Homo sapiens: one gene and its partner. The protein of the gene in region 1 interacts with the protein of each later gene in a pairwise test. Each region holds a gene or a part of one and is shown on either strand. Other genes may lie near its edges. The genes, in order: CFAP20 and TFCP2L1.

Region 1 (3,500 bases):
GTCTTGGAGTAGGGGAGAAACAGCAGCAGCTGAGAGAAAGACAGGGTGACAGGAAAGACAGACAAAGGCGTTTTCATGAATTAATGCAATCTCATCTCATGTACTTTTAGGATACTATCTTGTTTTTTTTGAGACAAAGTTTTGCTTTTGTTGCCCAGGCTGGAGTGCAATGGCACCATCTCGGCTCACCGCAACCTCCACCTCCCGGGTTCAAGTGATTCTCCTGCCTCAGCCTCCCGAGTAGCTGGGATTACAGGCATGTGCCACCATGCCCGGCTAACTTTTGTATTTTTAGTAGAGACGGGATTTCTTCATGTTGGTCAGGCTGGTCTTGAACTCCTGACCTCAGCTCGCCTTGGCCTCCCAAAGTGCTAGGATTACAGGCGTGAGCCACTGCGCCCAGCCAGGATTACTACCATTAAGACCGAAAATTGGCTGGGCGCAGTGGCTCACGCCTGTAATCCCAACACTTTGGGAGGCCAAGGCAGGCGGATCACGAGGTCAGGAGATCGAGACCATCCTGGCTAACACGGTGAAAACCTATCTTTACTAAAAATGCAAAAAATTAGCTGGGCGTGGTGGCGGGCGCCTGTAGTCCCAGCTACTCCGGAGGCTGAGGCAGGAGAATGGCGTGAACCCAGGTGGTGGAGCCTGCAGTGAGCCGAGATCGTGCCACTGCACTCCAGCCTGGGGGACAGAGCAAGACTCTGTCTCAAAAAAAAAAAAAAAAAAAAAAAAAAAAAAAAAAGACTGAAAATTACAGCATGTTTTACACAAGTATAAGTGGGAACAGAACCTCCTGGTATTTTCCTTACAACCAGAAGTAATGTTTACATTAAACGTAAGAGTCTTTTAATAAATATAAGATTTGCTGGTCCCAGATGTCAAGGTAACATTAAAGAAACCCCTAATTTCTTCTAAGCTGTTGGTTTAGAAACTTACAAAAGCTTCTATCAGGAAACTGTATAGCCAGGAATACAGACCTTAAGAAGCTAATAATGTCAAGTGTGATAAGAAAGAAGTAAATTAACTTACCCTGAAGAGTTAAGGAAGGTCACTCTGAGAAAGGCCTTTGAACTGTGACTGGAGCCTAATGAAAAGATGGGAGTGAGGCTTGTGGGGTGGTGAGGGGCAGCGCCCAGCAGAAGGACCAGGAAGTGCAAAAGCTTGAAGGTGAGAGAACAGGACTTCCTTCAATTCAGTAGGAGGCTACTACTAAGAGGGGGAACCGGGTGAAGTGAGTCCCGCCTGGAGAACAAGTGAAGCAGGTGCCAGAGCATGGGTTATGTGGCCTTAGAGCCACATTAAGGGCTTAGGGCTGGGCGAGCCACGGTGCAACAACTAAATTCTTCTCATTTCAGGAGTCTGGTTTTACAGTACTTCCTATTCCTAGAAATCTGGATGGTGGGCTAAGTTCAAACATCTTATTTTAGTTTTGAGCAAATTCCTCAGTCCCTGCCATATTTAATTCTGTATGTCATTACTTATAAAGTACTAACTACAGTCATGCATTGCTTAAGGATGGGATTACGTTCTGAGAAATGCCTCATTAGGCAGTTCCATGGCTGTGTGAATATCAGAGTGTACTTACACAGACTTAGACAGTACAACATCCTACACACCCGGGCCATATGGTATAGCCTATTGCCCCTAGGCTACAATCTGTACAGCATACTACTGTACTGAATACTGTAGGCAACTGTAACATAATGGTACGTATTTGTGTGTCTAAACATAGAAAAGGTACAGTACTGTATAAACGATAAAAAGTGACACAACTGGATAGGGCACTGGCCATGAGTGGAGCATGCAGGACTGGAAGTTGCTCTGGGTTGAGTCAGTGAGTGAGTGGTGAGTGAATGTGAAGGCCTAGGACATTACTGAACACTTTGTAAACACAATACACTTATGCTACAATACATTTATTTTATTTAGTTATTTAGTTAGTGCTGGGATTACAGGCATGAGCCACTGTGCTTTAGTTATTTAGTTAGTGCTGGGATTACAGGCATGAGCCACTGTGCCTGGCCAGACTACACTAAATTTATTAAAAATATTTTTCTTTCATCAATAATAAATTAACCTTGGCTTACTGGAACTTTTTTACTTTATAAACTTTAAAAATTTTAAAAACTTTTAGACTATTTTGTAATAACACTTAGCTTAAAACACAATGTTCAACTGCACAAAAATATTTTCTTTCTATATATCTTTATTCCATAAGGTTTTTCCTATTTCTTTTTTTAACTTTTTAAACTTTTTTGTTAAAAACTAAGACACAAACACACACATGAGCCCAGGCCCGCACAGGGTCAGGATCATTAACATCAATCACAGTCTCCACCTCCACATGCTGTCCCACTGGAAGGTCTGCAAGAGCAATAACGCACATGGCGCTGTCATCTCCTATGACAACACTGCCTTCTTCTGAAATATCTCCTGAAGGACCTGCCTAAGGTTATTTTACAGTTAACTTTTTGTTCTTGTTGTTAAGTAGGAGTACATTCTAAAATTATGATAAGGCCAGGCACGGGAACTCATGCTTGTAATTCTAGCACTTTGGGAGGCTGAGGCAGGAGGACTGCTTGAGCATAGGAATTCAAGACCAGCCTGGGCAACATGGAGAAACCCCGTCTCTACAAAAATACAAAAATTAGTGAGGTGTGGTGGTGAGGGCCTGTAGTCCCAGCTACTTGGGAGGTTGAGGTGGGAGGATTGCTTGAGCCCAGGAGATGGAGACTGCAGTGAGCCCTGATTGCACTACTGCATTCCAGCCTGGGCAACAGCAAGACCTTGTCTCAGAAAAATAAAATACAATAAAATAATGATAAAGAGTATAGTAAATACATAAGCCAGTAACATAGTCATTTATCATCAAGTGTTAGGCACTGAACATCATTGTATATGCTATACTTTTACATGACTGGCAGTGCAGTAGGTTGGTTTACACCTACTCACAAACACGAGTAATGCATTTGACTTAACGAACAACTATTATGTCACTAAGCGACAGGAATTTTTCAGCTCCATGATAATCTTATGGCACCACTGTCATGTGTAAGGTCTGTCGTTGACTGAAACGCCATCATGTGGTGCATGACTACATATACTGTAACTCTGTTGCTAAGGACTTTATATACAGCTTCATTGAATCTTCATAACCGTGAGAAATAGACGAGAAAACTGAATGGTTAAGGACATAGCTAAGATCACACAACTGGAACACAGCACAGCCAGGATGCAAATCCAAGGTGTCTGACCACGCCCTAGCATTGAGGTTTTTCGGTAAGGTACTGTTCTTCTGCTTAAGGAACCTGCAGTCCAGTGGACGATCTACAATAGAAAACTGCCAGCCACAGGCACACCCATGAGGCTTAACTCAAGTTCTCAATGAAAAGAATGTTTAAGTTGAGATTGGAAGGATGAGATGGAGGGGAGGGGCTGTGAGCTTCAGAGAGTCAAATAAATTGCCGGTGTGACAAACACTAACGAACAAGCCA
Region 2 (4,582 bases), on another chromosome or scaffold:
GACCTCAGGTGATCCACCCTCCTCGGCCTCCCAAAGTGCTGGGATTACAGGTGTGAGCCACCGCGCCCAGCCCAGTCTATTTTCTTATCCAAGTGGGAAATCTTGAAATCCTTGCTCCAAGTTTCTTTTCCTCCACCTCTTAACAAAACTCTCCACATTAAAAAAAAAAAAAAAAAAAAAAAAATGAAGTCATCATCCTGCGACTTAGGGAGGAACTTGTTTCTGGACGTATTTTTTAAGCCAGGAACAGTGGCTCATGCCTGAAATCCCAGTACTTTGGGAGGCTGAGGTGAGAAGACTGCTTGAAGCCAGGGGTTTGAGATCAGCCTGGGCACCATAGTGAGACCCCACCATCTCTAAAAAAAAAAAAAAGGAAAAAGAAAGAAACAAAAAACCCAGCATTTTAAAAATGCCCTTACAAGGGACAAAGAATTCCTTGAGAACATGAATGACCTACAGGCAGGCAAGGCTTGTGTAAGGTCTCTAAATTATGAGCAGCACATAAACAAGTGCCAAATAAGTGCCAGTGCTCTTATCTTGATAACCCTCTTCCCTTCGTGGGTCCCTGACTAGGAATCCAATTAGCTGACCCCACTTGTCTGTATAAACAGAGTCACTGGTACAATCTGTTCCTCGCACATCATAAACAAGCGTCTCTACAACACAAACCCGGCACACACCCCATCAACATCTCATCAATTTTGAGAAGAAAAAGCCTGGCATTGAGCACACACCTGGAAAACCTGCCCTGTGTGGGCCTCCCCCGTCACCATCCACTGCCGAAAAATAAGGGTGCAAGGCCGTCTCGACTTTCCCCCACAGGGCGTCTTCCTTTTGTCAGAGCAGGGCACACTCCCAGCCCGGGTGGTTCTCTAGGAACACTGAGGATTGCATAATTTCATGTTTGCCCAGACCATGTCAAGTTAATAATCCACGGACTGCTGCCTTTAAATTTTTTAAACAGGGGCGGGTGGGCAGAGGAAGTTAAGAACCATCCCTCAACAGTAACTTGTTTCAAGCCTGGCATCTTTATTTGCCAAGGAATAAAAGTCACGAGAACATCAAACAGAAAGGGGGAAGGGAGTAAAGGCCTCTACCCTGGTGAGGTCAGACAGCTTGCAGAAGTTCTGCCAAGTGAGGAGACGACCAAAAATAAAATACAAAAAACGCAAGGAAAAGGACCAGACCCTCCCTCTAGAGTCAGGGGACCAGGGGCATATGCACAAACCGCCACCTTGGCCCTCACTGAGGGCAAAACTCCCAGCTTCCAAGAAGTGAAATAAAAAAGGGCAAGGACTTCTTTATCCATGGTCCCCCGATGACCCCAGAAGCCAATATGGCTTTACAGCACCACCCACTCCCAACGCTCACCCTCCTCCTTTCACCAAATCCTAAAAGGTACCTGAGCTACTCCAGACAAACTTCCATCTCGGTAGCAGATGTCAGAACTGTACCTCCCAGGCAAGGGAGAATTGTTCCCTAACGGGGTGAGGACATTGTAGGTATCTAGGAAGTTTCAAGTACACTCACCTTCAACTCAGGGTCACCTTCAAACTCATTGTTAAGATATGGCAACATACTTAATGGCAGCAAACTAAAACTTAGCCAAAGCTACAACTAAAACTTCAGTACAGTAAAAATGTATTCCATTGTAGCATTTCTTGCAAGTGAATGGACACTTAATCTCTGGGTGATTAACATCTCCTCCTGGGCTTCCCTCTGGTGACATCACCGTGGTCTGCCGGGTGGCTGTCAGCCTTTAAGGCTCTAGACCTTTGCCATCTCCGACTACTTTGGCCCATGAATAAAAACAGCAGATACATCCACTAAACCCAATCATTCCCCCGCCTCCAGGAAAAGGGGATGTCTTCAGGGAGGACAAATACCTACCAGCAGCCAGGAATTACAAATAACGTTTTAAGATCTAAGTGGGAACTTCTTGGGGCCAAAACTAGCACTTAAAGGTAGCTCTAGTATGGGGGCTGTCAATGCCTGTGACTCCTTCGGCCTCATCATTCATTTTCCTTGAGCCCATATCAAATGCCCTTTGGGTTAAATTAGGCACATTTCATAAACTGTGACTAAGATGGAAATAAGGACAGGCTAAAGCTGGTTCAGGCGAGTTCACAAAGTGAAATGACTGCCCATTAGTCCCGGCCAGCAGCAGAACAGGGAAAAACAATCCTCCGGGAGCGAGAGCACACGGGGTCCTACTGCTAAGAGGGGCCTGTGGGGAACTGTGCAAAACACGCAGGACTTACTTTCCCCTCTGAAGGGCACTACTCAAATCCCTCCAGCAGAAGAAAGATTTCCATCAAGGGCAATAACCACGCGGGCCTCGGGCGAACACGCGCAAGACCATCGCGGGAAGTGGGGCGGCCTGCCCCTCCGAGCCCGCCGCCCGCCCCTCGTCCAAGGAAGGGCACTGCAGAGGGCGCGAGGCTGGGAGAGGGGCCCCGGCGGAGACGGGCAAAGAGCAGGGGACGAACTTCCCCGGGCCGGGCACCAGGCTGCTGGCAGGAAGTTTCCTCTGCTTCTCCGATACGCGGGGGAGAGGAGGGCCGCAGGGGGCGGACGGGCCAGGGGAGGCGGCGGGCCGGCAGGTGCGCGCCCTGCACCCTCTCTGCCGCCTGGGAGGAGCCCTCGCAGACATAGGGCTCTGCGCGCTCGCCTCCCCAGCGGGCCCCCAACTCCGCACGTCGGGTCCCGCCGGCGTCCATCTGTCAGTCCCTAGGCGGGACGCTGGGCGGGTCTCTCAGTCCCCAGAGGGCGGACAGCGGGGAGGCCAGGGCCCAGCAGGGGCGCCCCCTCTCCGCCCCTGGACGTCCAACGGCGCCCGGCCCGCCGGCCCGGCCCGAGACCCGCGGGGACCGCGCGCGGCCCTTACCGCAGGTAGCTGCCGGAGTTGTGCTGGTTGTAGTGCTCGGGCTGCGTGTGCCAGAAGAGCATGGCTGGAACTCCCAGCGCGCCGACCGGGGCGCGGCAGCAAGCGCAGACGCGGGGCGCGCCGAGGACCCAGCGGCGGCTTCGCGCTCCGAACCCGCGGTGCCGGCCGGCTCGGCGCATTTATCGGCGGCCCAGGGGCGGGACAGCGGTGAGACCCGCCCCCCAGGAAGCGCGGCCCGGAGGGCGGCTCCCCGCGGCAGCCGCACCTGGCTGACTCCCGCGCGTGCCTTTCCGGCGAGCGAGCGCGCCTCCGGGGCGGCCAGACCAGAGGGCTCTAGGGCCGGCCGGGTGCTCTCCCCAAACTCCGATGTGGGGCTCAGGTGACCCTTGCCGCCCCCAACCCGCTCCACACGGCCCCTCTGGCCTCTGCTCCCCACTCTACGCCCAGGGCCGGTCTCCAGAGCGGCTCCGAGATTTCCAGCCTAGGCCCTCTCTGTCGCCTTTCCTCGCTCTTGTTTTTTCATAGCACTTCAGACGCTCTGAAATCATGGGGGTTTTTTTGTTGGTTTTTTTTTTTTTGAGACGGGGTCTCGCTCTGCCACCCAGGCTGGAGTGCAGTGGCGCGATCTCGGGGCTCACTGCAACCTCTCCTCCCAGGTTCAAGCAATTCTCCTACCTCAGCCTCCTGAGTAGCTGGGATTACAAGCGCCCCCCATCACGCCTGACTGATTTTTTTATTGTTAGTAGAGACGGGGTTTCGCCATGTTGGCCAGGCTGGTCTCGAACTCCTGACCTCAGGTGATCCGCCCACCTTGGCCTCCCAAAGTGCTGGCATTACAGGCGTGAGCCCCCGAGTCAGGCCGACATTTTTTTATTTTTTATTTTTACTTGTGTACTGATTGTCTTTCCCATTAGACTGTAAGCTCCAAGAGGACAGGGCCTGGCTCGCTTAACACCCCGTTACCTGCACTGCCTAGAACAGTGCATGGGACATAGTTAAGATAAATGTTTGTTGAGTAAACATAAAAAAAGAAAAAAGGAATGCACCAAAAGAGTAATCAGAGAAGCCTTCCTGGAGGAGGTGACATTGAGCTGAGACCTGATGGATGCAAAGGAAGCATCTCTGTGAACATCACCTAGGGAAAAATAGTTCCAGGCATAGTTCCCTACCCCCTTGGCAACAGTGACTGCCAAAGCCTTGAGGAAGACCTACTTGGCATGGCTGGTCTTGAGGAGAGCTTAGGAGATGAGGTGAGGAGGGCGGGGAAGATCAGAGGGCCTGGCAGGCCAGGACAAGGAGCTAGGATTTTATTCTGTGTTTTAAGCAGAGGAGTCACATGTATGATTTGCCTTTTGGAAAGATCAGTCTGGCAGCAGTGTAGACAGTGGGTCATGGGGTGGAGGGGAGGGCCATTAGGAGGGAGTGGAGTTCCCTGGAGCCCTGACCCCTATCCAGGTGCTATCCGGTTCTCCAGTACATGGCACAGCACCTGGCACAGAGGAGATGGGGATTCTGTCCCTGAGTATTAATCCAGTCAAATGACATCCCTTGGGGACCTGGTCCAGAACTCCCCACTCCCCCACGCATGGATGTGGGTAAAACCCTCCCTCACTCTGCTGTTCCTGCCCTCCTCCCTCCAGCCATAGGTCACAACTGGCAAACCACTTCCTCTGTGCAGCCCTCAAGGACTGCCCC

Evidence for each region.
Region 2: the proteins of CFAP20 (region 1) and TFCP2L1 interact in a two-hybrid assay, tested with the Homo sapiens proteins (one large-scale study listed by BioGRID and IntAct).

What each region holds. Positions count from the first base shown.
Region 1 is NC_000016.10:58,122,882-58,126,381, forward strand, and holds part of CFAP20 (cilia- and flagella-associated protein 20), read right to left. Parts: intron 1-3,500. UniProt on the Homo sapiens protein: Cilium- and flagellum-specific protein that plays a role in axonemal structure organization and motility. Microtubule inner protein (MIP) part of the dynein-decorated doublet microtubules (DMTs) in cilia axoneme, which is required for motile cilia beating.
Region 2 is NC_000002.12:121,282,161-121,286,742, forward strand, and holds the start of TFCP2L1 (transcription factor CP2-like protein 1), read right to left. Parts: upstream 3,043-4,582; 5' UTR 2,950-3,042; coding exon 2,888-2,949; intron 1,485-2,887; exon of another isoform or gene 735-1,484; intron 1-734. UniProt on the Homo sapiens protein: Transcription factor that facilitates establishment and maintenance of pluripotency in embryonic stem cells (ESCs).